7 separate regions of the Homo sapiens genome follow, and regions 2, 3, 4, 5, 6 and 7 are each reported to be linked to region 1. The links are microRNA targets in miRTarBase. Many come from high-throughput screens and were not tested one by one. Region 1 holds a microRNA gene; each other region holds the end of a gene's coding sequence.
What was found. Region 1 holds the annotated microRNA hsa-miR-424-5p (CAGCAGCAAUUCAUGUUUUGAA, at 1,843-1,864, opposite strand). A microRNA usually pairs through its seed, bases 2 to 8, with sites in the 3' UTR of a target mRNA and lowers its output. Matches are read on the target gene's strand: a 7mer-m8 pairs with bases 2 to 8, a 7mer-A1 pairs with bases 2 to 7 and ends in A, and an 8mer does both.

Region 1 (4,067 bases):
GAAGCTGGTGAGAGGCAGAAGGGGCGTCACAAGGTGGCTCTCCCACCCCCAAGTGCAAAGGCAGGCGGATGCGGGGACCTGTTCGCCGTTTGAGCCTGGAGATTGCGGGCCTGAGGGGCCCTGCGCTGGCCGGCCGGGGCGAGGCGGGAGCAGAATGGGGATTTCTAGGCCGCCGGGTCGGGCTGGTGGGCGGCGCCCCGGGAGCCTGAGGGTCCCCGCCGGCCCGGGAGGGACCCGAGCCGCCCCCGCGCACTGCCCCGGCGCAAGGGAGTCTGGGAGAGCCAGCGTCTCGGGCCGCTGAACCCGACTCCCAGCTCTAGACTTCGGAACCCCGGCCCCACCCCAAACTGGGAAACTTCTAGGGGCCCACTCCTGGCCCCGGGAAGCCCAGTTCCAGGCAGCCCATTCAGACCAGAGGAGTTTGGGTGTCTTTTTTTTTTCTTTAAGGTGACAAAAAGTGTGGGAAAGATTCCACACCTCCCTCCCCACGCCCGCCAATGGTCCTTTACCTGTCCATGTTTCAGATTAAATAATTAGCTCAAGAGATTTGCACAGAAAGCGAATTAGCCCTTTTCTAGTCAGACTGTTAAGCTCTCAGGCGGGCAACTCGGAACCCCGTTTCCTCACCGAAGGCTCAGGAGGCCAGCCCAGTGAGGGATGGAGGTGGCTTTAGAGGGCGACAGTTGTGCAGCACTCATGAGCAACAGTGCCCAGGACTTTTGAAGTCACGAAGGGCTCCTGAAATCGACAGCTCAGGTCCCGCCCCTGGGGCGACAAAGGAGTCTTGGGGGCGTGCCGCCGGGTTGGAATTGTGGTAGCAGATTTTTGGGGGAGGAGGGCGCAAAGCAGCTAGAAACGCACATCCTCATTCTGGAACTATCCCAAGGCCCCCATGCTTCTCAGCAGGCCTCGGGCTCAGATTGGGCGGGTTGGAGCCTTCCACCCCACCTTGGGTTCACCCGCCCGCAAGGCCTCGCGCCTCACCCGATCCTTCTAGAGTGCTGGAGCTCCACGGAGCCTCCCTAACCCCCCAGCAGCGGGGAAGGGAGGGCGAGGGAGTGGGGAAGAGGCCCGTTATTTTGATCTTTCCTGAATTCTTAAGTCCCTTCCATACCCAGGACATGAGCGCGTTTACCAGGAACCGCAGAGAGGTGTAAAGACTTCTTGCAGCTGCTCACCCTTCCTCTCCCCTTACTCCTTTTCCAGTCCTCCCCACCCCCCAGCATTTCGTGGGTGGGGACTGAAGATAGGTTTTCTTCGTTGTCCTGTGGGTGGTATTCTGATTGGGAAGGGATTTTTTTCAATTGTTTACATTCTACCTGAGCAGGGAAAGGGGGTGCCAAAATGAAGCATCATTCACGTCCAGTCACATATGCAGAGACGGGGCAAACGTTTGATGCAATCTTGGGTCTCGCTGCTCCCGGGGCCGACACCGCAGGCGATGGCCTAAGACTTACCTGCTGGGTAGGCCCGAACGGCAGTCCCAGACTTACCCTGGCAGCGGAAACAATACCCCAGAGCACCGATCGCTCACTGCAGAACTGTTCCCGCTGCTAGGGCACGGCTGAGCGCGGGCACCGCGTCTCTCCTCGACTCGCACCGCCTATGCGCCCCAGCCTAGCCAGGAATACTGCCCTCCCCGGACTACAGCCCTGCTGCGTGGACAAGGGCGAGGACCCGCCGGAAACAGAGACGCGAGCCCCCGCCCACCTACCTGCTCCTGAGCCGGCCTCGCGGGGAGCGGGCACCTGGTGGCAGGAACACGCGTCCGGCAGACCCCACCTTCTACCTTCCCCACGAGGGGGTATAGCAGCGCCTCACGTTTTGAACCATTTAGAACACTTCAAAACATGAATTGCTGCTGTATCCCCTCGGAGTCAATGAAGGGGGATCGATCTGGGGGTACCTGCGGGTGAATAAAGACTGGATGACTGAAGGAAGCCCCGCCCCACCCCCTGGCAAGGAATAGGGCAAAACTTATGACTAGGCCACTTCACTCCAAGTTAAGGTACTTCTTATAACTTCACCATTTGATTTCCAGGAGCTGCAGGTGGAGCCGAAAGTGTGGCTCTCAATTTTTTCCCCTGAGGATGAATCTTGGAACAACGTAGTGGGTGAAAAGCAGAGCGATGGGGGATACGAATTAGTGTGGAAGAGAATCTAATTACTTCTGAAGGTAGACGAATAAGGTTAAGTAGAGGCAATTGGACATCTGGATCATTCTTGCCAGTTTCAAAGTCTTGGTGAAACTTCTTCCTGCTGCATATTACAAGTCTCATTCATTGTCCCCATTAAAAAAAAACAAAAAACGAAACAAAAAAACAACCTTTATTGGAAATGGACTCAGATGACTGAAAGAAAATAACCAAAACCTCACCGGTAGCTTCAGCTGATTCTTACACTATCGTTGCGACATATACATCTATCTTTAAAAGCATTAGATGTCCTAACTCACTGCTAGTGTTTTTATTCTTAAACACCCCAGCTGAGTTATTTTAAAGAGCTCCAAACAATGACAGAGAACTTTCTGTAGATGAAATACCAGTTTACATATTAAACTGGTTACTCAAACTTATTTATAATTTATACCTATCAATGTCATCTATCAAAACATAAATCAAAAAGTTTAAATACTTGATGTCAAGTCGCTCCTTCCTGTTTCAAGCAGCTCCACAGAAACTTTCATGTCCTGAAATGGCCGGCACTGCGCATACTCCTTAATGATTAACTCATTAGATACCACTTTTTCCTTTTTAAAATGGACACATATTAGCAACAAGTCACATGCATGCCCTCTTTTTGTTTGAATACAATATTCAATTAAGCATTAAAAAAAAAACCCACTCTGAAATCCTCAATCACAAACCTAAAAGTTAAAACAACAAAATCAGCACTAACTGTAATGGTTTTGAAAGTTAAATACATTTCAGCACAAGTAATAGACATTTAAATTATCCAACTGTAAGTATCTTGTTACACTTACAAATTAAGTCGGTTTTTCAAAACCAGTACAATGAATGTTAAGTGTCCTATTTATTAGTTAATAAAATGTGCAGAGTATTTAATAAGATTAAGTATCGAATTTATAACATCCAGACTGAGATCCAGTGGTAACAAATACACTATGTCATGGTAAAAAAAAAAAGTCATTAGTAACAATAACCCCATTCCCTAAATTGCGACAATCAAGTATCTCTACATTCCATCTTGTTTTGGCAATGATATTTACAAACAACTTTTACACTGACTTTGGGATTAATGGAGAAAAATGTCGTTGACTGCCCTTAAAAAGAAAAAAAAAACATGTTTAGCAAATGTACAATTATCATGTAAAACTCCACAACTTTCTCCCAACATTTTGTTCCACACAAATATACGAGCCATCATGTCAGAAGTTAAAGTCATGCCTAATTTAACATTTCCTTAGTTGACTACTTAGAAAAACAAAAGTTCATTCGAAACAGCATCGGTGTCAAAGGCGAAGGTCCCTTCCAGATTGCTCTTGGAATCAAATTCATTTATACCTTTCACCCTAACCCCTTTCATCTCTCCCAGTGATAGTACAACGAGTTACACCCCTAAAAAGCCACCTCGATCCCCTAGTTTACATATTTCCCCTTAGACTGAAATTTACTTACGAAAAGAGATTACAAAGGGGCGTCTTGTCACTTCAGGAGAGGGTCATTCACTGATACAATAGACAAAGAATCGATACTTTCGAGTTGCCATAGCCCCACCCCCTTCTGAACTGCAATGTGTTTGGCTAAATGATTTAAGAGCCAAAGAATACGCCTCTTCCTCTGTTCATACTCTACAACGTTTTGTCTTTTAATTTTGCATATGCCTTCGTCCCCCACACCCCAAACACACGATGTACCTTCTCTCGGCGCATTCTAGCCAAACTTCCACAATGTCAAGTCCCTACGGGGAAAACTAAACAACCTTTAAAGTTTTAATTCGGGAGAGACAATGTGAAATTAATCACACATTTCTTTCCAAGACATAACTAACTTCTTGCAAATAAGAGGAAAAGTTCATTTACATTCTGTCAAAACCAGTCGCTCCCG
Region 2 (4,067 bases), not on the chromosome of region 1:
TTCAAGCGATTCCCTGCCTCAGCCTCCTGAGTAGCTGGGGTTACAGGCGCACACCACCATGTCCGGCTAATTTTGTAGTTTTAGCAGAGACGGGGTTTTGCCCTGTTGGCCAGGCTGGTCTCGAACTCTTGGCCTCAAGTGATCCACCCACCTCGGCCTCCCAAAGTGCTGGAATTACAGGCTGAGCTACCACGCCTGGACAATTTCTTAAAAAATTTTTTTAAAGTAGGATTGATAGCAGATGAGTTTTCTCGGTGGGCCAGGTCCTCTGCTAGGGATTTCAATGGAATGATCCCATTTAAACCCACTACAACCTCATGGGGCTCTTATTGTCCTCGTCTTGTGGGGGCAGAGAGGAAAAGTCCCCAGCATGCAGAGTGTTGGAATCTGGATTTGTACACAAAGCCACGACTCTGAATTGTTCAAATCCCAAGACTCTCTTCCCCATCTCTGACTCTGTCCCCCAACTCTTCACTCTCTCTGGATCTCTGTCTAATCCCACTCCAGTGTCCTGACCCTCCTCGAGCTCAACCTTTCCTCCTCCTGCTAGGACCCTGCCCCCTCATCCCTGTGCCCTTCTGTCTGGGTCTCTGTCCCCTTGTCTGGGTGTCTGTCACCCTCCGCTCTCTGGTTCCTCGCCTTCCCGTCTCTAATCTCACAGGGCTGATGTGGACGCTGCTGTATGGGGGGAACACCTGCCCTGCTCACAGGGCTCTGCCACTTTTCCCTTCCAGGAGGGCATCCTGGCTGTTTCACCCGTGGACTTGAACTTGCCATTGGACTGAGCTCTTTCTCAGAAGCTGCTACAAGATGACACCTCATGTCCCTGCCCTCTTCGTGTGCTTTTCCAAGTCTTCCTATTCCACTCAGGGCTGTGGGGTGGTGGTTGCCCTACCTGTTTTTGCCAAAAATAAATTGTTTAAAACTTTTCTTATTAAAAACGTTACAAAGTATTCAATTGTCTGTTCTTACACTTGGGAACTAAAGTTTTAAGGAGAGGAGATTTGGTTCAGAGATTTCTGTGGCTTACGCAAATTGAGGAAAGAACCAGTTCATTCATTCTAGAAATATTTATTTGCAGCACCTACAAGAGCCTGTCTCCTGGACATGTAACATATTTGAGAGAATACCTGTAAATATTCCAGCAACTTGCATTTTTTTTTCCTATTGCACGATCTGGTTATTCTAGCTAATGCTGTATGATGGTCATGGAGTCTTTCCAGTGAATTCCACAGAAAGGTACAGTCTAACTTCACCTGTGTCTAGGACACCACCCTCTTCTTGTTTTTCTCCTCCCATTGCTCCTTTCAAGTCTCTCTTGCTGGTTTCTCATCTACCTACAGACCAGTGGTTTGTCTCACACACACCCCCCACTCTCCCTTTTTTTTTGGAGATAGGGTCTTGCTCTGTTGCCTATACTTGCACTGTTATATAGATACAGTGGCACTATCATGGCTCACTGCAGCCTCAACCTCCTGGGCTCAAGTGATCCTCCCACTTCAGCCTCTCTAGTAGCTGGAACTAAAGGCATGCGACACGACGCCTAGCTAATTTTTAAAAAAGAATTTTTATGGGAGGCCAAGGCAGGTGGATCACTTGAGGTCAGGAGTTCAAGACCAGCCAGGCCAACATGGTGAAACCCCATCTCTACTAAAAATACAAAAATTAGCCGGGCATGGTGGTGGGTGCCTGTAATCCCAGCTACTTGGGTGGCTGAGGCACGAGACTCGCTTGAACCCGGGAGGCAAGAGGTTGCAGTGAGTTGAGATCACGCCACTGCACTCCAGCCTGGGCAACAGAGCGAGACTCCGTCTCAAAAAAAAAAAAATTGTAGAAATGGGGTCTCCCTTATGTTGCCCAGGCTGGTCTCCACCTCCTGGGCTCAAGTGATCCTCCTACCTTGGCATCCCAAAGTCCTGGGATCACAGGCATGAGTCACTGTGCCTGGGCGGTTTGTCTCCTTTATAGGGCCATATCCCCCTTCACAGAGTAATGTTTGTAAATTAATAAGTGAAATGTACAGGATTACAAACCGAACCAATTACAGTTGATCCTCAGTATTTGTAGATTATTTGCAAATTTGCATCCTTGCTACAATGTATTCATACCCCAAAAATTAAGGCAGTGCTTTTGTGGTGTTTTGGAGGGCAATGCTTATGCACAGAGCTGCAACAAGCTAAAGACCTGATGTGCATATTTGCAGCTGGGCTCCTCTTGCTTCAGCTCAAACACTGGAAACAAATGTCCTTTTCTTGGTTTGTTTAGTGCCATGCTTTTCAATTTTTTTTTTTTTTTTTAAAGTTAGAGTCTCGGTCTGTCGCTCGAGCTGGAGTGCAATGGCTTCATCCTGGCTCACTGCAACCTCCACCTCCTGAGCTCAAGCGATTCTCCTGCCTCAGCCTCCCAAGTAGCTGGGATTACAGGCGTGTGCCACCAGTCCTGGCTAATTTTTTTATTTTTATTTTTATTTATTTTATTATTTTTTGAGATGGAGTCTCGCTGTGTCGCCTAGGCTGGAGTGCAGTGGCACCATCTCAGCTCACTGCAACCTCTGCCTCCCGGGTTCACGTGATTCTCCTGCCTCAGCCTCTGGAGCAGCTGGGACTACAGGCGCCCACCACCACACCCGGCTAATTTTTGTTTTTTTAGTAGAGACGGGGGTTTCACCATATTGGCTAGGCTGGTCTCGAACTCCTGAGCTTGTGATCCGCCCACCTCAGCCTTCCAAAATGCTGGGATTACAGGCGTGAGTCACCGCGCCCGGCCAAATTTTTTTTTTTTTTTTTTTTGAGACAAGAGTCTCGCTCTGTCACCCAGGCTGGAGTGCAGTGGCGCGATCTCAGCTCACTGCAAGCTCCGCCTCCCGGGTTCACGCCATCCTCCTGCCTAAGCCTCCACGCCCGGCTAATTTTTTGTATTTTTAGTAGAGACGGGGGTTTCACCATGTTAGCCAGGATGGTCTCGACCTCCTGACCTTGTGATCCGCCCGCCTCGGTCTCCCAAAATGCTGGGATTACAGGCGTGAGCCACCGCGCCCGGCCGCCTGGCGTAATTTTTGTATTTTTAATAGAAATGGGGGTTTCACCATGTTGCCCAGACTGGTCTCGAACTCCTGATGTCAAGTGATCCGCCTGCCTCCGCCTCCTAAAGTGCTGGAATTACACCCGTGAGCCATCGCGCCCGAACCCTATTGTAAATTTTAAGTCTCAGGCGTTTGCCAGCGGCACGCCAGAGAGTATAGCCTGCGCGGAGGCCCAGAAACCAAAGAGCGAGCTCATTCCGGGATTGGAGAGAAGTGTGAGCAGAGGGAAGTAGAGGGATCGGGGAGAGGAGGGGCAGGACCCACGCATTCGGCCCTTTGCATTCAGCTTCATTCAACTAGGAACTTTTTCTGCAAATCAAGGAAAGCTTCCCGGAGGAAGTGGTGCCTAAGCTGTGCTCTGATTCACGTTTAGAAGCTGACCAGACAAAGAGAGGTGGGCGTTCCTGGCAGGGGGAGGGACTTGGCAAAAACCAAGTGGCTTGAGAGGGGTTGATGGTTTTAAAAAACTTGGAATGATTATGTCAAGGGCTAGGGATTTAATGTGTTGACGACGGACTCCTATTCCTCACTTGCTTCGGGACCCCAGCTATGCCCTTCCTCTCTCTGGGCCTCTCACCGATTCCGTTTTTCCCCCAGGTAATGAGCACAAGCTCCCTTTTTCCTCCAGACTCCCCCCGGGTTGGGAGGATCCACCGAGTGGACGAGGAGTGATAATTCCTTTGAGCCAATCGTTGGTGCCTGAAGCCCCGCCTTCTTCCCTACCCGTGGGCCAATTGCCGTGTTCTCCTTGAGGCCGGCCGCTTGGCGAGGGTGGGCCAAAGGCTGCGTGACGTCGCTTCCGGATAAACCAATGGCAGCGATTAGGAGGCGGGTCGTTTTGGTGATGGACAGGTGTTTCAAGACGCCCCTTTAGCGCGGGGCTCCCCGGGAAGCTTTGAGGCGGTGCTGGGTGTAAAGGGGAGGGCATTCCTGGTGGATTTTGCCCAATCACCAGTCGCGCTTCTTGCAATAGACGGGCAGTTTT
Region 3 (4,067 bases), not on the chromosome of region 1:
CAGACATCAAGTAATTCAGTGTAAATGATATTCAAAATTCAAATTAAGTATTTTTCCCCAAACGACGCAGAAAGCTTTTAAGAAATATTTAGACAAATTGCCACAAAGTAGAAGTCAATACTGAAAATTGCTTTTCTCTTTGCTCTTAGTTTGAAATTGAGGAGGAGGAAGAAATGTTGTCATCCGTCATACCAGATTCCAGGAGAGAAAATGAACTTCCCGATTTCCCCCACATTGATGAGTTTTTTACCCTTAACTCAACACCATCTAGATCTGCATATGATGAGCCTCATTTGCTCGTAAATATTGAGAAACAGAAACTAGAGTTGGAAAAACGACGACTGGATATCGAGGCCGAAAGGCTGCAGGTAGAAAAGGAACGCCTACAAATCGAGAAAGAGAGGCTGCGGCATTTAGACATGGAACATGAGCGGCTTCAGCTAGAGAAGGAGCGGCTGCAGATTGAAAGAGAAAAGTTGAGGTTACAGATAGTCAATTCAGAGAAACCGTCCTTGGAAAATGAACTTGGTCAAGGAGAAAAATCCATGCTTCAACCACAGGACATAGAAACAGAGAAGTTAAAACTTGAGCGAGAACGCTTGCAACTGGAAAAGGATAGGCTGCAGTTTTTGAAGTTTGAATCTGAGAAGCTGCAGATTGAAAAGGAACGCTTACAGGTAGAGAAAGACAGACTTCGAATTCAGAAAGAAGGACACTTGCAGTGATTTTTCCAGGCTTCCATTTAGCAAATGTTTGAAAACTCTAGATTTTTCTCATATCAGGTGATATAATGATGGTTGCTGGATTAGCTGTGGTTTCTTGTCTAATGTCAGTGTTCAGTAGGAAAAAGTTATATGTGGATAACTGTATGCCTAAGTAGTATATAAAAGCTGTGCCCTAGCGTAAACAGTATAGCAGAAACTTACTGTGCTGGACTCTTTACCTTATAATATTACATAGAGTCTTGTATTGTCTGTGTACCCAGAGTTTACAATTATGTCCATATAAAATTCTAGCCCAGAAGTTCTCATCTGGGGTAGATTTTGGCCTTCAGAAGACCAATTTGGTGATGTCTGGAGACATGTTGGGTTGTCAAAACTGGGGTGGGGAAAAGGTTGCTACTGTGCAATGCATACCTCCTCAACACCCCCCCACACTCAGTAAAGAATTTTCCAACCCAAAATATCATTAGTCCTGAGGTTGAGAAACCCTGTCCTAGCCTAACTGTGTACCTCTATAGCTATGTTTTATAGTTTTAGAATATTAAAACCTCAGATATTTATGTGGGTAGGTACTTAAATGGCCAAAAACTTTAACTATGAAATGTTACTGTGTAGTATATTGAATATAGGAAGTGATGAAGATTATAGGTATTTTATTCCCATGTTTCCATCTATAAATAGCCTTCTCAGATTCAGAAAACAATACAGAGAACATCAGAAATTTTCTAAAATGGGTCACTTTGAAAAGAATTCTTTTTCTCACTATTAATGCTTTAGAAGCAAGACGCAATTTTAAAGCTTTAGTTCCTTTTCTTTCAGTCATTGTCTTAGTTTGGGTACAAAAATGTCATTTCAGTAATGTACTGAAATCTTATAAGTGAATAGTTGAAGCTAGTAAAAATGATACCAGTATAAAAATGGTACTTGTAGTCCATGAGCTTGAACCCAATGACTGATTGTTTGACTTTTAAAATAAGTAATAGCAGCCATTTGGGAGTAGGGGGTAGGTGGGGAAGATGTACTCCGTATCAAATAATAATGATGTTGAAATAATGATAGTAGGTATGTATTATGGATTGGAGAAGCACTTATTACACTATCTAACCTAATATGTAGAACAATTCTTGAGAGTTGTATCTGTCGTTATTTCTGAATGTGAAGCTCAGAGAAGTGACACAGAGTAAATGGCTGATCTTCTATATTGTAGTATATTTTGTCCTTCCCTCTTCCCTGAGGAACAAAGCACGTATCTTTAGTCTCTTTGATATTTATTCTGAGACCAAGGGCTTGCTTGACCTGATGATTTTCCTTCAGCTCTCTGAAGGTGCTTTTTCCACAATCCAAGTGATTCTGATACACACTAAAGTTGAGAATCACTGCACTAGATCACTTTGTGTTTTCTGATTTTCAAGGTTGATACGTAGCTTTAATACAGCTCTTCTGTTGACAGTTATTACTTTAATTTTGCATTTGTTCCTTGTAAGAATGGCTGGAAACTGTGTGTTGACATTTGAGGATGGGTATGCAAGGAAAAAATATACTTCTGTTTACTTACTCTGACTTTGAAATAGTGTTATTTTTCTATATCTGAAATAAATGCTTCTACCATAGAAATAAATTTGCCTATACTATCTGAGAATTTGTAATTTCAGATGATACTCAGTGCTCTAAGGGTAGAGGTTATCAAGCTTAGAAGAGAGCCCTGTCACAGTCAGTGAGGACAGAGGCCTAAATAACATTTGGACTGGACATTGAGCTATGTATGCTGCATATGTTATTTGCTCCTCAAAAGAACCCTTGAGATCTAACTCAGGTGATACGGTTTAGCTCTTTCCTCACCCAAATCTCATCTTGAATTGTAGCTCCCATAATTCCCATGTGTTGTGGGAGGGACCCAGTGGAAAATAATTGAATCATGGGAGCAGTTTCCCCCACTGTTCTCATGGTAGTGAATAAGTAAGTCTCACAAGATCTGATGGTTTTATAAGAGGAAACCCCTTTCTCTTGGTTCTCATTTTCTCTCTTGCCTGTGTCCATGTAAGACATGCCTTTCACCTTTTGCCATGGTTATGAGGCCTCCCCAGCCACGTGGAACTGTGAGTCCATTAAACCTTTTTCTTTATAAATTACCCAGTCTTGGGTATGTCTTTGTCAGCAGCATGAAAGCGGACTAATACATCATGTTATCTCCACTTTTATGACAGCAACAACAAAAAAAAGCCTCATCGATTTAATTAACCATCTTTCTTAAAAATTACATACTAATATTGACCCAAGTTTTTAGCATAAGAGCTCTAAGGAAAAGGAATGGTGAAAGTTTGTAGGTATAGTTATAAGTATTGTAGCTTTGCCATTTGCTATTTGCGAAAGGCATTTAACTTGCTCTTCAATTTGGTTTCATCTGTAACTGGGGCATGATACCTACTCTGCCTGTGCTACATAGTTTTTTTTGTTTTGTTTTGTTTTTTTAAAGAAAATGGTAGAAGTATATAAACTATAAAATGCTACTTAAATGAAAGATGGTATTAATGTTGGATTTGAGATCCAGGGTTTTTTGAGATGGAATTTCACTTTGTCACCAAGGCTACAGTGCAGTGGCGCAGTCTTGGCTCACTGCACCTCCACCTCCCAAGTTCAAGCGATTATCCTGCCTCAGCCTCCTGAGTAGCTGGGACTACAGGCAAGCACCACCACCACCACCGCACCAGGTGAATTTTTTTGTTTGTTTGTTTGTTTTGAGACAGAGTCTTACTCTGTCACCCAGGCTGGAGTGCAGTGGCGCGATCTCAGCTCACTGCAAGCTCCACCTCCCGGGTTCACGCTATTCTCCTGCCTCAGCCTCCTGAGTTGCTGAGACTACAGGCACCCACTACCACACCCCACTAATTTTTTGTATTTTTAGTGTAGACGGAGTTTCACCATGCTAGCCAGGATGCTCTCAATCTCCTGATCTCGTGATCCACCCGTCTTGGCCTCCCAAAGCACTGGGATTACAGGCGTGAGCCACCACGCCCAGCCGCCAGGCAAATTTTTGTATTTTTCATAGAGACGGGATTTCACTGTGTTGGCCAGGCTGATCTTGAATTCCTGACCTCAAGTGATTCACCCGCCTCTGCCTCCCAAGCTTCTGGGATTACAGGTGTGAACCACCATGCTGGCCAGCTTTTAATTTCTTAGGGAAAGCATGAAAATAGCTAATAATTATTTTTGGATAGAGCAGTCTTAAATGCCTAGAAATGAGAAACTAAAAAGAAGCATAATATCTTCTAGGGCTTTGGTTGAAGAGCCTTGGGTTTCTTAACCTGCTTCAGGTGCAGATGGGTTGGATTGGTTCATTCCAGTAGG
Region 4 (4,067 bases), not on the chromosome of region 1:
TGCTGCCCCCACTAAAACATCACACACCTCAAATATTCCAAAGGGAGGCTAGAAGCTGGCCTTATGGGGTAAGGTCATCTAAACCATCAAAGCCGACAACTTTCCAGAAGGGGTAGCAGGTACCATAAACACTTATAACTTTAAACAAGGGGTTGCTCTGGAAGAACCTTTCTAGTCACTTTATTCCACAAATCCAGAATGTATCTCTGAAGATTCCCATCCTCACCATGACTAAATACCTCAGTCACCAATCTAATGAATGAAGCACCAGGTTACAACATACTACATAAAGTAAAATGCAATGAGATTAATCTGCTGACGTAGTCACCACTAGAGGTAGTAGCCAGGCCAAAAACTCAATCATTCTGTTCATAATTTTCTAAACTTATGGCCCCATTTCAAAATCATCTCTTGGCGTCTTGCACTGGCCTCTGAGGCTGACTAGCCCTCTGGGTTGGATGTTGGCCATCCCTCTCACTATAAAGGAAGTTAGCCAGTTTTCACTGTTGAATGGAAATCTTCAGGCCCAAAGCCACAATTATTCGAGTTTAATGAGTTCCAGTAGCCCTTAGAAAAAAACATTTAGAAAGCTAATTCTTTTTTAAAAGCCTAAACTTCATTTGATTGCATCAAAAAGTTATTCAGATGTGATGACCAAAACAAAACTGCAGACAAGCCCCATGGTTTTTTTGTTTTTATTCATTTTATGATTAAGGTGTTTATCACTACTCCAGTTGGGTAAACCACATTGAAGAATCTGACTGCAGGTCTTTAGATTCAGCCAAATGCTTTCCAACAATTTTGCTCTAAAAAATATTAAACATTTTAATACTTCAGCCATGCTCAGAACGCTGCAGTCTAAGGATGAACTTCAACTTGCCCATGCCAAGTTAGGGCGACAGGAGCAGAACTAAGGAGCTATGACGTCTAAAAGAATCAGAGAATCTGGCTTAAGACGAAGAGAGCTTCTGTTCCCCAAAACTAAACTGTCTAGTTTTTAAATCCACCCTTAACCGTTCAAGAAACTGAAAAAGTCAACTTGTTTTTAAAATACCACACAGGTATGCAATCTTCCATGATTTGTTTTGCATCTCAGCTAGCACAGGGAAACCCTTGAAAAACCTAGCTGTCAGAAGTTTTTCCTGAGGGAAATCATTACGCTTCTACTGCTGAGCTTCATGTTTATTCTGTGCGTCGGGGAAAGGAGAAAGCAATGGGACAGAGAAGGGAAAAGTTGCGACTGGGTGACAAATTCATTAGGTGCATTTGAAAGTAAACGCAATGGAAAAAAGTAACAAATGCTAAAGTTTTCTAAAAGTTTAATGAAGCCAATAAGGCATATAAATTGTGTTCTGGCAGACATTAAGACCTGCTTTCTCTTACCAAAGAAAATGGCACGTTTTATCAAAATTTGACAATTCAGAGTAAAGGGTACTGAGATTAAGCTTCAGAGCACCAACTTAAACAAAACAACCAAAAAATTGTTATCCAACGTGGAAAGAGGAGCAAGAACCAAGGCATAAAGGGGAATTAAATATGTGTTCCTCCATCTCAAAATCCTTTTAGGAATAGGAGTTCTGGCCACTTGTGAGCAACACATTGCACCACCAAACCCCAATTCCAGAATCTAAATTTACGATAGAAAAACAAAGGTAACTCCAAACGCATGTCTTGTATATTCCAAAGGGAAGCTTGAAAGTATTCATAATACATAGGCTTGTCTGTTTCAGGTAAAATGACAGATTGCTATAATTCTTCCTGCTATTATAGTCAAACAAAAAATGACCCACTTTCGCAAAAGTTTAGAAATCTCTCACTTTCATTCCTAGTTTTAGTATGGAATTCACTTTTTTAAATAAGGGCTACATCTATAATGAATACAGAACTTCAATTCACACAACATTTCTAACATTCCATTCACATCCCACCCAGTCAATGAATGAACATTTATGGTTAACTCAGCAAAGTTTCTTCACAGAAAGATATTATTAAATGGCTGAAGAAATTGCAAACTTTAACAAAGTGCTGTGAGTAATTACTGGAAAAACCCTTACACTGATTTGCAATGGTCTTTTAAGGATAAAAATAGGAAGTAACTGATACTGGACTACAAGTTTGCAAGGAAACATTTTTCACTGTCCTACTTGATATATAATATAATAATATGATAGAATAAATTACAGTACCTGGCAGGCTGACATCAGTTCTTCATCTAAAAAAACACTATCATTCAGTTCAGGATATTAAAAATGAAGATGAAACATGCTCTAAAACATTGTAGCTACAAGAGGTCTTATATTTACTCAAAAGAGGAATCTATTGAGAACTTTTTATTTAGGTCTACCTAACAGCTAGAGAATCTCCATGCGATTCCATCTTTTCCAGAATGAGATTCCAAACTGAACTTTTTAGGAGAGGGATTGGAGGGACAGGGAGAGTTGGGTTTTGCTATTTTAAGTTGCAATCACATTATTAGTAGATAAAAAAGAGAGCTTTATCATCTTCCACCCATTCCAATGGAAACTGCACTAAGCAGGGACTCCATGAAAAATGTAAAATGATAGACTAGAAAACCTACCCCACCATCCATCTCCCTCTCCCTCTCACTAATACTGAACCAAAAAGGAAGCCCATTCTCAAAGTTCATGACCTCTCTACTTTAGGTCACCTCGAATGCAGTCTACATGTTTACATTTACCATAAGGAAAGTACCCCGCATGGGAAGTAGTGTTTGTCTTAAAACTGAGTACTTTAGGCCTACAGGGTTACTCTGGGGACAGTTTAATAATAATACTGCTACTTTAGAGCACTAACACACACAAAGTGAATCCAATAAAGCTCTGGGCATTGATTCAATATTTAGTATTAATTGCATGACCATCATAGCACCTCTTTACATCACACAATCACCAGAATTAGAAATTGATTTGAAAACTAAAAACAGGGCACAGTCCAATAATTAGAATTGCACACTGTTACTATATAGAAACCAGGTGCATGGTACAGTGCAGCTGCAAAAATGGAAGCCAAATCATGTTTTTAGACAATTTTAGGAACCTGGCAATACTGTTGAAGCAAAATACTCAACACAGCAGGAAATGGACCCAAAAAAAAAAAAAGCATTCTATAACCAAATAAACATCTGATATTTCCTTTCCCTTTGAGAATAAATACAGTTAAGGTCACTTTTAGCCTTGGAACGGATATATGTTTGCCTATGATGATCTTGCTAACGACTACACAATATCTGATGTCCTCTGCTAGGATTATAGTTTTAAGAAAGCCATAATTACAAGAGGCATCTACTATAAATACCTAGAACTTCCTTTTATGGCAACCACTATAGAATTCACTTGTCTTAAACAGTGAACAAGGGAAGATGGCCTCATGTTTCCTTTGCAATTATAGTATATGTTGAGGATCAAGTGGCTTTCAAGCAGCATGGTGGGTGTGAAAATGTTTGCAGTTTAGATCATTCTGTTGCGTTTATGGGTTGGTGAGTCTGTAATGACATCGCCACACTGGGCTGAGGTACGCTTTCTAGTTCCACCATTGTCCAAGTGGAGTGCCATTTCTTCTGATATGAAAGTGTTCAAATCGACATCATGGAGTCCATTTCTCCTTCGACTAGCATTCGATCCACTGCTTACATGTGTAGGAGAGCCTGGGGTACTCGAACGCACGCTTATACTAGCCATTGCACCACTAAGACCTAGGAAGAAGAAAAAAGGTTTTAGAGTTGCTCAATTATGTAACCCTTTTGAAAGCAACCCACTTACTTTCCATGTTGTCACAATGTCAAAGCATGTCTGCCTATTTCCTTTATAAGGGATTACTAGTAAGCAATTAAGTTTTATTCTGGATAAACATATCATCTGGCCTTGACATATATTTTATTGGTAATACTACCAATATCTACAATATTGGTAACTACCAATTACTAAAAGTTACTACGTGTCAACCACCGTGCTAGGTGTACAAATATCTCATTAAATTCTCCCATCTATGAGGTAGGTACTGCACAAAATTTACAGATAAGGACAGGAGACATTTGCTTTAAAGACAAG
Region 5 (4,067 bases), not on the chromosome of region 1:
TTCTCATTAAAAATCCCAGATCCCTGTAATTATTTTAACAAGTGCCTCCTCCCTTTATCTGCTGTTATTTTGCCCTCCCCCTATGCTACCTTTTCAGCATTTATCATCTCATTTGATCCTGGCAGCAGGGATTTAGCAGGAACTAGCAGAGACTTGCTGGTTGGAGCTGGTTGGCGGCCAGAGCACTTTCCCTGCAGCCCCCGCCTTTTGCTTCCCTCCTTTGCTCCTCCTGCCCAACCCCGTGCCACTGAGGTTTTGTTGTTGTGTCTTGTTTTGCAGACATTTTGAGTTCGTATGAGGTTGTCCATCGAATCCTCAAAGGGAAAATCACTGGTGCTTTGAACTCGGCGGTAACTGCTCCTGCATCTAACTTGGCTGTTGTCCCTCCACTCCTGCCCTTGGGGTGTCTGCAGCAGGCTGCTGCCTAGGCCTGGACACAGTATTTACCTGGCATTCTTTTAGATCAAACGAACTGGTTATCTGAGGGGTTGGGTGAACTGGCTCGGGTGGGCCTTCCTTCCCACCAAGGCTTTGTCTTTCTCTTCCAGTTGCACATCCTAAAGTTTGAAGAGTCTAAATAACGGGGCTTCCCTCAGCATGTTCCCTCTCCTGTTTGCCACGGATCCAGAGGCCACCTGCCCTGTCTTCTCGTACCCCTTTCACTCTTGAGGCCTGGGAGGTGAAAAAGGCCAGACTGTGCCCAGGATTGATTCAATTTTGCTTTTACTCCCAGCTTCCCTCTCAAAAGAGAGTGAAGTCTCATTTGTCATGTGTCTTCAGTTCCCCAACTTGGCATGAACATTTGAACCAAACATAGGAAACTACCATTAGGTTGAAAGCCTGAGGCAGCTGGGATGGTCTTTCTTGTGTCTCTTCTTTGCACCCCAGAGCATGATATAAGTGGTCCTAACAGATTCTGGATAATGGAGAAGCCCTCTGCTGGTTTTCCTGGCATTCCATGTAGAATAGGTAGAGAATATTTAACCAATGAGCAAATAAATGTTGGCATGTTTCATGAGTTTGGAGTGATTGATACTTCTTTCCAGCCACCCTTCCACTGCCCTGCCGTGCCCTCTAAAACTGCTGCAGTGAGATTAGAGCCTGCCAGTGTGGGCTCTGGGCCATGCAAACCCTGCCTGGGATATAGATACATGTTTGAAGTGTAGGGGAACAACCTAAGAGTTAGTTTCATTATTTCTCCTTGCCTTCTAAGTGGAGAGAAGAAAATTGTTTCATGATGATATGGCCTTGTTTCTTTTTTATACTTTGTACTTTATTAGAACCCTAAACTTAAGGTCATAAAAGGGAGTGCTGGGTTTGGCAAGAAAAATGGAGGATTCTCTTAGAGTTAGTTGGTGTTATGCAACTCACAGGGGCAGGCATTTCCCTCTATGTCAAGTGAACAGGAACCCCACTGTTTCTTCAAATAATTTTATTAGAGCCAAACTATTTAAATAATTTTATTTGTTTCATCCTTTGGTAGATGAGAAAAATACATTACAAAATACATTATACAGAAGACAGCTCACAGTACACATTACTAAAAACACAATCTACATTCCAGCCAGGGCTGGTGGTAAGTTCAGAAGAAAGCCACAGAGGCCTTGAAAACCAGATTTCAGCTCTATGGAATGAATTTTCCCCTTATGTCCCGTCTTTATCTCAACCTCAGCATGTTTTATTAGCACCCCTAATTAGGTGGGTGTGGGTAGAGTTAGAGCAGCATTGAGTGGGACTGGTGGACTCTCCATCCACCTAAAGCAGCAAACATTAAAAGTCCCTCAAAAGAAAAGGGGTAGGGGAGGGGAAAGAATGGCCAATGTGAAAATTGCTGTGTCTCAAAGCATTACAGAACTGCTCTAGCATCCTAGTTCCCAGGCAGTTGTCCCAAGTCTGGGTTTTCTGAGACTTGGGTCTTCACTTGGCCATCTTTGGCCTCTGTCATTTCACTGTTAATGAGAGCTGCTGGCATCGTAGGTCCTAAGAGGCTGAGTCCCAGAGCAAGCTTACAGACAAAGAGATGCAGGCAGCACCCGCTAGATGCAAAGTCATGCCCAAACTTTTACAACAGCAAGTACATACAACACAGCACTGACAGTTCCATCTCAGTACAGACTCCCCACCTCATCTTCCCTCCCTGGCAGTTCCTGAGCCTGGGGTAAGGACACAGGTGTATAGAACAACCCCCCTTAAAATGCTAACCCTTTCTAGTAGGACCCACCTTGTGGGAGTGGCTTGAAAGAATCCATAATTTCCCAAGCCAAACAAATTCAGAGCTAGGTCTGTTCTTTTTGATAAAGCCAAATGAAGCAAGAGAGAGGGAGGTGAGCAAAGCTTACCAATGATCACCATCCAGTGCTGGTTAGAAGCCACTTTCCAGGAGAGGAACCAATGAACAGCGAAGAGTTGCAGCCACACAGCTGAGATCAGAAAAGACCACATACACACTTGGAGACTGTGTCCCCATCCCCACTCAATTCATTCAAAAGGAATTCTACGAAGCAGCCTCTTGAGCCTCATTTTCTTTTTCTTAGAAATTTGAAAACATCTGTGACTAGAAAAGTAGTCCTAAGAATTAACACCATCGTTTCAGCCTACCACATTGTAGTTTGGCAGGCCAGGCTCTGCATTCCAAGGGGGCAAGTGCTGGTTGCTCCAGAGGCCTTGAGGAGAAATCTAGGGGCAGACCAGGTGTGTGCTTCAGCTCCAAGTTTCTCTTGCTTTAGCAGCAAAATGCGGCCTCTCATCTCTACCAAAGCAACAGTGGACTCGTACCCCTCCCCACCTCCCAAGTAGTTCAGGGGATGGGGTGGGATGTGCGAATAAAAATAAAGATGAGTCAAGACCAGCATCTTCAAATTAACAAACTGTAATTGTTTTCCCAAAGATACATTTTTTTCATACACATCCATCATACACTGTAACCAAAAAAAGCAGTGTACATGAAATAAGAGAAAATAAATTAAAAATCCATAGCATAGGTAAGGAGGCTCTAGTCTGGAGCACAGCTGAGTTTCCAGCAATATAAGGAGGCTCGAAAGTTTCTTTTATAAGAATGCCTGCTAGCAAGGGTTCCAGCAAGGTGGTTGGTTGGTCTGTAAGTCAGTCTTGAGTACTTGAAACAGTTCTGTGTTTGTTTTTTTTCCTTAGCGTTTAGAATAGCCATCATTGTCCTGCAATAGGCAGAGCTATCACGTCCAGGAAAAATGAGGGAGGGAACCACAGAGGCAGCGTGAGATCCAAATACAGCATTCAAAGGTAATTGGTCCAGTGGTGCCTGGGGAGGGAGGAAGGGTGATACTCCAGGGTTAGCCGTCTTCTTTTGGGGGTGTGTACCAGCCTGCAAAGAAATGGAATGGTCAGTGAGGTGAAGGTTCAGGCCCACCCTCCCTGTCCTGCCCCAATCCCTGAAGACGTCTCCAGTGGCAGAGATAAGAGGATATTGGGGAGGGCTATGCTGTGTGGGGAGAGGTGTATGGGAAGCTGAGAGCCTGCATACCTGGAGATGAGAAGGGGGAATGATGTGCCCAACCTGAGATGATGGGAGAGTTAGATGAGCTTTTTCAAAAGGTGGTCAAGAAGGGGGTAGCACCAAGTTTATCGGTGATACGATCATTTTGGTGTGTTTCTGGAAGAGGTTGTGAATGTTAGCCACCGCCAGTCCCTCCTGGGAGAACTGGGGCAGGTGCTGTGTTAATGGGTGGTTGAGTATCAGAAACCAAAAGAAGGGGTTCTTGCTCTGTGGCTGGAAGTGAAAACCTGGGTGTGGCAAGTGTCCGAATCTCCTGAGTCCTGGCTCCAGCCTCACCGTTTTTTTCGTGGATCTGCACCAAGGACTTGTAGGACTGCTGTGCTCTTGTCAGACTGTATTGAGACTGGGGAGAGGAAGCCACCAGATCAGGCCATGGCTAGCTGTGGCCTTACTGCCCCTCACCTTCTGCAGGCTGTCACCCAGAGACCCCAGAGTCCCAGCTCCCAGCACTGTGGTCTAGTAAAACACTAAGTACCCTCCACCTTCGAGGTCCCTTGGAGGCATAATCCCATAGTCTTCCTTTTCCAGACCCGAA
Region 6 (4,067 bases), not on the chromosome of region 1:
TAAAGGTCACCCTTTGAGACACAGAGATAAGGGTAGAGAGTGGATCTGGGATGGTCAAACAGAAGCACACATACATGCAACAATTTTATACTCATGAATGACTAATAGGTATCTCAATAGATGGATCTGTTAGGGAATGGAGTAGAGTGGAAAAGAGGCCTGTGAACCAGGTGCCAAATTAAAGATTATGGAGAAGAGTGATGAGAAGGGTTAGAAATTTATAGCAAAGAATAGTAGTAGAGGGTGATATATATACTGAGCTTCAAAAGGCATGTTTTTACATGAGACTGGTGGAATTGTGGTCTAGAAGAGGCATTGCATTAGTGAAAGCATGTAGCCCCACAGAAGGTGGTGGCAGAGAAGAATCAATACCAACCACTAGAGAGAGAGCCACAGGGGAAGTGAGCTCTTTCTGGGGAAAGCCAGGTGCCAGTCAAAACCAGAGAGTAAAAGAAACCTTCAACAGGCTGGGCATGGCGGTTCACATCTATAATCCTAGCACTTTGAGAAGTTGAGCCAAGAAGACCACTTGAGCTCAGGAGTTTAAGACCAGCCTAGGTCACATGGTAAGACCTCCCCCCCCCCCGCCGCCCCACACCATCTCTACAAAAAATAAAAAATTAGCTGGGCATGGTGGTGTGCTTCTGTGATCTCAGCTATTTGGGAGGGTGAGGTGAGAGGATCCCTTGAGCCTGGCAGGCTAAGGCTGCAGTGAGCCATGATCATGCTGCTGCACTCCAGCCTAGATGACAGTGAGACCCTGTCTCAAAAAGAAAAGACACCTTTGAAACTGCCTTTGCAAAATTATGACCAAGACGGCGAAAGAGATCTAATTTAATTGACTCCATCTTGCTTCTAATCTCCAAACTGTCCTTTTCATTCTTGGGCGGAGGGTCAACTAACTTTGGGAAAAACTTAGTATACAGTTTAAAACAAAGATGATAACAGCCCTTTCCCAAAGCAGTCTTCCTTCTTGCCTAGGGAGTAGATTGCATTTGTAGGACTAACATTAGCCACAAGATTAGAAATTATGGTTTGGGAGTCATGCAGCTGGAGGCTACAAGATTCTGACTGTCTCTAAACTGCTCCTAAGATCAGTGCTTGAGATATTTTGCAGACCCTGCACATCATGAATCAGCTGGCACTACCTAGATTGATAAACTGGCTCATCTGATCTTGTGGCCCCCCCATCTAGGAACTGATTTGGTCAGGAGGACAGCTTTGGCTCCCTATGATTTCATCTCTGACCAATCAGCAGTCCCGGCTCACTGGCTTCCCCACATCTACCATGTTGTCCTTAAAAACTCTGCTCCCCGAATGCTAAGGGAGAATGATTTGAGTAATAAAACAACGCTGGTCTCCCGCACAGCTGGCTCTGTGTGAATTACTCTTTTGTCTGTTGCAATTCCCCTCTTTTTTTTTTTTTTTTTTTTTTTTTTGAGGCGGAGTCTTGCTGTGTTGCCCAGGCTGGAGTGCAGTGGTGCGATCTCGGCTCACTGCAACCTCCGCCTCCCGGGTTCACTCCATTCTCCTGCCTCAGCCTCCCAAGTAGCTGGGACTACAGGCGCCTGCCACCACACCTGGCTAATTTTTTTGTAATTTTAGTAGAGAAGGGGTTTCACCGTGTTAGCCAGGATGGTCTTGACAGGATGGTCTTGATCTGCTGACCTTGTGATCTACCCGCCTCGGCCTCCCAAAATGCTGGGATTACAGGGGTGAGCCACCATGCCCGGCTCCCCTGTCTTGAGGAATTGGCTCTGTATAGGCAGCAGGCAAGGTGAACCCCTTGGACATTTACACCTTCAACAGTGGCATTTGTCTTGTTTATTGTTTTTTTAGAGGTTGTTGTTGGAAGTTTTGGGAGAGAATGGGAAGGGTCCAGGAAAGCACCGAACACAATGGAGATTAAAGTACAGGAGAGGCCGGTCGGTGGCTCATGCCTGTAATCCTAGCACTGTTGGAGGTTGAGGCATGATAGTACAGACCTGCAGTCCCAGCTACTCGGGAGGTTGAGGCAGGAGGATTGCTTGAGCCCAGGAGTTTCAGGATGCTGTGAGCTATGATAGTGCCACTGCACTCTAGCCTGGGTGACAGAGTGAGTCCTTGTCTCCAAAAATTGAGAAACTCAAAGATGTTCAATTGGTGATGGTACTACAATGTAAGGGGTGTTGGGAAAGATGACGAGTGTTTTCAACTTCTACAATGAAGAGTGTTAATGTAGCAGCATTTGAGATTGAGGGAGCAGGAGTGCTAACATCCTGTGGGCTCAAGACAGTGCTGCACAATTGTCCTTACTTTAAATGCCAATAACATCCCCCACTGATGATTAAATTAATCCTTATATCACTAAAGATTACAGAAATATGACATATGGTGGTATTATCTGGTCTCAAGGATCCAAATGGAATGCTGATGTCACATCCAGGTACTCACAGTGTCCTTGGCTTGTGGTAGCCCTGAGAGAAGTGGTATTTGCTTTGGATAGGAATGTGGTAGTTTAGACTAGATACAGCTGGAGGGAGGGAGTGCTCCCTATCAGTGGAATATTTTTATACAACAAATTAACACTCTCAAGTTTATTTCCAACATTCATTTTTTATATTCATTATAAACAGGGTGATATGGTTTGGCTATGTCCCCACCCAAATCTCATCTTGAATTATAGTTCCCATAATCCCCATGTGTTGTGGGAGGGACCTGGTAGGAGGTAATTGAATCATGGAGGCAGGTTTTTCCCATACTGTTCTTGAAGTAGTAAATAAGTCTCACAAGATCTGATAGTTTTATAAATGGGAATTCCCCTACACAAGCCCTCTCTTTCCTGCCACCATGTATGATGTGACTTTGCTCCTCATTTGCCTTCTGACATGATTGTGAGGCCTCCCCAGCCATGTTGAACTGTAAATAAATTAAACCTCCTTTATAAATTACCCAGTTTCAATTATGTCTTTATTAGCAGCATGAGAACAGACTAATACACAGGGTTAAACTACGGAGAATTGGCTTGCATTATAGACTGGCTGTCTATCACATTGAGCATCCTCAGAGGGAAAGATGTGTAGACAATGCTATGCAAACTTCTAAGTTTTTCTTAGAAACATTTCTAATGGAACTATTTCATACTGGAATCACAGATTAATCAGTGAATTTTTTGTGTGTGAAAAGGAACCTCAGAGACTACCTTGAACCCACTGTCATGCTTCTGAATACTTCAGTGTAGAAATACAAAGCGTGCTTCCGTTTTGGTCACTCATACCATGCAAGTAAATGAATAGCTGAATACCTTTGATTTTAAATGTAAATATGACCTTTAGAAATAACAGCTGGTTTAAAAATGAGCCAAAGTGTAAGTAAAATGGGCAACGGATATACTTCAGTTCCCAAAGAACATTTATAAGGAAAAGTTGTGTTTCCTTTGCAGCTTTCCGTCTTAGAGAAAAGACTTCATCATCTTATATGTGATGTGGCTTTCTGGGCTCCTGACATCTTTATAGAGTTTGACTGGAATTTCCTTCTCTTGAAAATGAATGGGCATTTTCTTGCTCTCCACACTCATAAGCTTCACTCCCAGGGGGCCCAAGTTTACATAATCCTATGGTGAACAGGCACAAAAAAGAATAGGAGAGGTGATTCAGCAAATTACCAGCTTGATAGATTAGGCTTTCTTTATTACAGTTGGCCTTTATCTGACAGACTTCATTGCCCCCTAATTGCCTGATGCTGTGTAGCACATGAAATATGAGAGCCACTATAAATGGGAAAAAAACAAAATACTCAGGAAACTTATATACCCAGTAGGGCATACACAGTAGGCAAGATCTTCCAAAAGCAGGCAGCAAGGCTGGAAGGCTTGTCTCATAGTGGGTTAATGGGGGAGGGATGCTGGCTATAGTTAGTGCAAAACTAACTATAGTCTGTGAAAGGAAAATAAAAACATGGGACCCCAATTCACTTTGCCAAAAGGAAAAAATTAAGCTGAAAGCTGAGTCATGTAAGCAACTGCCTTTGCTTTTGTTCCTAAGCAGATATGTACAGATAAAAGGTTAAATATCCCCACAGGTAGCTAC
Region 7 (4,067 bases), not on the chromosome of region 1:
AGAGTAAGCATTTTGAGGGAGGGAAATGTGAGAAAGGAATGTATGCTGAGTGAGGTGGCCAAATGCACTATTTAATAAGCTACAGGAGGAGTCATGAATATTTATGAAAAGACAAATGTAAGCATGTGCAATTGAGCTTCATGCCTCTTCATGGGTCGCATGTTCACAAATGGTGGCATTAGCATGATCCAAGGATGGAGTTTTTGGCCCTCTGATGTTGAAAGGTGAGGCAGAGGATGTGAAAACCCTCACCGCACATCCTCTGTAGACTGGCCAGACCACTCCATGGTTGGTGGTCTCTTATCAGGAAGGAATGCCAGCCAGTTGGTTGCTGTGTTGAAACTGCAAAAGGCGGGAGGAAGGAATCCAGTCACAGCTTCAGATGATGGGCTAAAGGTGATAAAGGAATGATTCATCTGTTTCTTATTTTCCAGAGCTGGTTTCTGCTTACTCCTTAGGAAAGAATTCTGGTTAAAAGTTAATAAGGAGGGGGCATACTGAGGCATGTCTGACCTCCCATCCTGTCATGGTCAGGGACTCTGTTTTTTTCTTTCTTTCCTTCTTTTTTCTTTTTCTTATTATACTTTAAGTTCTGGAATATATGTGCAGAACGTGCAGGTTTTTTACATAGGTGTACATGTGCCATGGTGGTTTGCTCCACCCATCAGCCCATCATCTATATTAGGTATTTCTCCTAATGCTATCCCTCCCCTAGCCCCCCACCCCCCAAAAGGCCCCAGTGTGTGATGATCCCCTCCCTGTGTCCACGTGTTCTCATTGTTCAACTCCCACTTATGAGTGAGAACATGCGGTGTTTGGTTTTCTGTTCCTGTGTTAGTTTGCTGAGAATGATGGTTTCCAGCTTCATCCTTGTCCCTGCAAAGGACATGAACACAACCTTTTTTATGGCTGCATAGTATTCCATGGTATATATGTGCCACATTTTCTTTATCCAGTCTATCATTATTGGGCATTTGGGTTGATTCCAGGCCTTTGCTATTGTGAACATTGCTGCAATAAACATACATGTGACTCTGTTTTTAAGGTTTCTCTTCGGTCCCCTTGGCCAAGACAGAGTCCGTTCAGTCAGCTGGGGGACTTAGGATTTTAGTTTTATTTCTCAGTGGTAACACTGACCCTTCCCAGATACTTCAGAAGAGCAATTTGGCTTTGTCCTGAGAAAAAGTGATCTCCCTGACACTCCTTTCTTTTATCCTCCAAGGAGAGCACCATGGCAGAGATAAGAACTAAGGACTGTTTTCCCTAGACCCATGTTTTCCGCTGACACAACATCAAACATAGAAACAAGTTTTGCTTAATATTTTATAAATTGAACACTAAAAACAAAGTGTATTTACTGTGTTGAGAACTTTGACCTCTCACTCACAAAGCATGCAACTGGGTATTTGGGAGGCACTGTTCCTGGTGAAGGTAGCTGAGAGGTAACTATCAGTGGACAGTAATCCCAGCATGTGTGGAGAACTGCCGGGATAAATTGAACAAGGGCGGTTTTCATGAGGCATGCAGGTAGCTCCAGGGAATGAACTCTCCCTGAGGAAAGAGAGAATAGAGTCCACAAACTGGGTCTAAGACATTCTGAGCAGAGGATGGAGTATCACTCAGACGGTCTTCCAAGGTCTCCTGTCTAAGCTGCAGCAGCATCAACAACAAAGGAGTAGATATTAAGTGAACTAGAATATGAGAGCACAAGAATTTAAGACTGGCCAGGTGCAGTGGCTCACACTTGTAATCCCAGCAATTTGGGAGGCTGAAGTAGGCAGATCACTTCAGCCCAGGAGTTCAAGACCAGCATGGATAACCCAGCGAAACCCCTCTCTACAAATAATACAAAAATTGGCCATGCATGGTGGTGCATGCCTGTAGTCCCATGTACTCAAGAGGCTAAAGTGGGAGGATAGCCTGAGCCTGGGAAGTTCAAGGCTGCAGTGAGCCGTGATCATGCCGCTGCACTCCAGCTGGGGTGACAGAGTGAGACTCTGTCTCCAAAAAAAAAAAAAAAAAAAATTTAAGAATTTAAGACTGACATGTGATGATGGAACCGGCATCATCACAGCAGGGGAGATAGTATCAGCTTCATCTCAAGGAGAGAAGACATAATTAGCAGATTGGTTAATCTGGGAATAATCTGCAGACTGAGGGAGTGGCCTTGGCACAAACCACAGCATGCACAGTGATGGGAGCCATTAACCTTGGTTAGACATCAGCAGGCACCAGTAGGGGCCAGGCACCAGTACCGTGGTCACTGTTAGCATTTGCAAACACCTGACTTGTAATATCCTAATTTGATTCTAAATAACTTTGAGGGGGAGGGTCCCGAAATTCATATGTAGTTCCCATGGTTAAACAATTCAAGTGAGAAAAGAAACACTTTCAAAATAGGTTGGGTATTGCTCAAATATGGAAGATGGCAAGGTGGTGCTTTTTAGTATTGAGTTATTCAGTATTTCACAAAGGAGAGTTTCAGAGATGTTTTGAGCACTAACAGCATTGTGTCTCCCCAGGAGGATGTATAAGCTCTGGGTGCTTGTTTGAAATCAATTTTGTCCTCTCATAATCACACCTCATGTGTAACTGACAAGCAGAGAGTGAACTCTGGGTTCAGTCCTGCCATTGATTCTTCCTCACTGTGAGGAAGAGAAAAAATTAGTAGCACAATTCCTGGCATTTGGTAGGTGTTCAATAAATATTAACTTCTGTCATCCCTGCTAGGGACTTAAAAGAATGAGTGGAACTGTCTAGAGATGCTCACCGTTGCATTTTACTGAGTAAGGTCCCATGAGAAATATGTTTATCATATTCAGACGAGGCCTCTTGTCCTAGTGATCCTACTTGTTTTATGCTGGCCTAAGTGGATGCTGGGACTCACTGTGCTTAATGAATGTTAATGAAGGTGATGAAGACCTTTTAGGAGATGATTAACCTATAAAGTCCTCCTTCTGCTTTCAAGTGGCTTTATAAGAAGCACACAGAGAGTCAACACTTTGAAAAGAATGAATACAAATGAGAATCATGTCTGCTTTGCAAGAGGAAAGTTTATTAGGCGATTTGGGGAACTGCAATAAAGGTAGAAGCAGCAGAGAGAACAAAACACCTCGTATGCCACTGTCACAGCTCCAACCTCTGACCATCAGAACTCAGACTGACTACAGGAGAGGGACCTGGGGTGAGGAGGATCAAGTAGCCCTAGGCTCAGAGTCAGACCCAAACGCTGGGCATTTGTTCTCCTTCCAGACCATGATTTGTGGTGATGCCTCGGGGTGGGGTCCGGTGGCTGATGGTTGTCAGAGAGGCAGAACTGGCCCACCGATGGTAGTTCTGTCTTCATGCTATACTTCTGCTGGCCCCAGGGTATCTAGTACCCAAAGGTGTTGCAAGGCCCACAGCGGGAACGAGGACCACAAGGATTGGTGACACAGGATCCAATGGGCTTTTCACATGCATTGGTGGTGGCGCAGGGGTTGGAGGGCAGCCTGGGATGCAGAAGCATTAGACTGTCAGCATGAGAAGGGTGATTCAAACAAGGGAGACTCAATCCAAAGAGACACAGAAACAAGCAGAACCCGTTCTCTGATGTCCTAGGAAGCCATGCCTTGTTTGGATCACTCCTTCTACAGAGTTCTGATACAGTGGCAGAAATGAGCAAAGAACATGTAAGGTGGAATCCCAGCCTTCCTTGTATGACCCTAGACACACAAGAAAGTCACTTCCTCCTTCTAAGCCTCAGCTTTCCCACCTGTAAGGTAGGACTGGTAGTACCAACCACACAGGATTATGAAAATTCCACAAGACTGTGTTCATAAAAATATTATGTTCGCTGGCAACTGCTGTACTGTTAGTTATTGATCATCAACCCTATTGACACTCAAATGCTCATCTATAAGAAGGTGATAATGATTCCCACTCTGCCTGCCTCAGATGATTCTAACAAGAATTAATGAAACGGTGGATTTGAAAGTTCTGTTTAAATCAGAAAAAGTGATCATTGTTACAGTTTCATTTTCCTTTTTGTGGTGACAAGACAGTCCTGAAGACAGAAAGATTTATTT

Region 2: the mRNA of BCL2L12 is a reported target of hsa-miR-424-5p. Seed matches in the 3' UTR shown: 7mer-A1 at 800-806.
Region 3: the mRNA of MSANTD4 is a reported target of hsa-miR-424-5p. The part of its 3' UTR that is shown has no 7-base or 8-base seed match.
Region 4: the mRNA of HAPSTR1 is a reported target of hsa-miR-424-5p. Seed matches in the 3' UTR shown: 7mer-m8 at 3,436-3,442.
Region 5: miRTarBase lists UBE2Q1 as a target of hsa-miR-424-5p. Seed matches in the 3' UTR shown: 8mer at 2,724-2,731, 7mer-m8 at 1,760-1,766 and 7mer-m8 at 1,719-1,725.
Region 6: miRTarBase lists CCDC83 as a target of hsa-miR-424-5p. Seed matches in the 3' UTR shown: 8mer at 2,954-2,961.
Region 7: the mRNA of KRT33B is a reported target of hsa-miR-424-5p. Seed matches in the 3' UTR shown: 7mer-m8 at 3,091-3,097.

What each region holds. Positions count from the first base shown.
Region 1 is chrX:134,544,838-134,548,904 of GRCh38, forward strand. It overlaps MIR424 (microRNA 424), which reads right to left and starts at 1,874; the gene lies at 1,777-1,874. MIR503HG (MIR503 host gene) reads right to left here and starts at 1,793. Exons shown (of 3, transcript NR_024607.1): 1 at 1,715-1,793. It overlaps MIR503 (microRNA 503), which reads right to left and starts at 1,561; the gene lies at 1,491-1,561.
Region 2 is chr19:49,672,964-49,677,030 of GRCh38, forward strand. It overlaps BCL2L12 (BCL2 like 12), which reads left to right. Exons shown (of 7, transcript NM_138639.2): 7 at 735-953. The coding sequence ends at 785. It also overlaps a transcript of PRMT1 not described here. Among named protein-coding and RNA genes, the nearest start is that of PRMT1, 2.3 kb to the right of the region's middle. RefSeq lists enhancers at 3,793-3,942, 3,947-4,067.
Region 3 is chr11:106,006,193-106,010,259 of GRCh38, reverse strand. MSANTD4 (Myb/SANT DNA binding domain containing 4 with coiled-coils) reads left to right here. Exons shown (of 3, transcript NM_032424.3): 3 at 150-2,361. The coding sequence ends at 725. Among named protein-coding and RNA genes, the nearest start is that of MSANTD4, 14 kb to the left of the region's middle.
Region 4 is chr16:9,116,313-9,120,379 of GRCh38, reverse strand. It overlaps HAPSTR1 (HUWE1 associated protein modifying stress responses), which reads right to left. Exons shown (of 4, transcript NM_014117.3): 4 at 1-3,712. The coding sequence ends at 3,468. Among named protein-coding and RNA genes, the nearest start is that of HAPSTR1, 27 kb to the right of the region's middle.
Region 5 is chr1:154,547,130-154,551,196 of GRCh38, forward strand. It overlaps UBE2Q1 (ubiquitin conjugating enzyme E2 Q1), which reads right to left. Exons shown (of 13, transcript NM_017582.7): 12 at 3,809-3,875; 13 at 1,448-3,340. The coding sequence ends at 3,309. TDRD10 (tudor domain containing 10) reads left to right here. Exons shown (of 13, transcript NM_182499.4): 12 at 280-350; 13 at 549-1,018. The coding sequence ends at 581. Among named protein-coding and RNA genes, the nearest start is that of UBE2Q1-AS1, 4.4 kb to the right of the region's middle.
Region 6 is chr11:85,918,874-85,922,940 of GRCh38, reverse strand. It overlaps CCDC83 (coiled-coil domain containing 83), which reads right to left. Exons shown (of 11, transcript NM_001286159.2): 11 at 2,928-3,592. The coding sequence ends at 3,431. Among named protein-coding and RNA genes, the nearest start is that of CCDC83, 66 kb to the right of the region's middle.
Region 7 is chr17:41,360,463-41,364,529 of GRCh38, forward strand. KRT33B (keratin 33B) reads right to left here. Exons shown (of 7, transcript NM_002279.5): 7 at 3,036-3,491. The coding sequence ends at 3,374. Among named protein-coding and RNA genes, the nearest start is that of KRT33B, 7.3 kb to the right of the region's middle.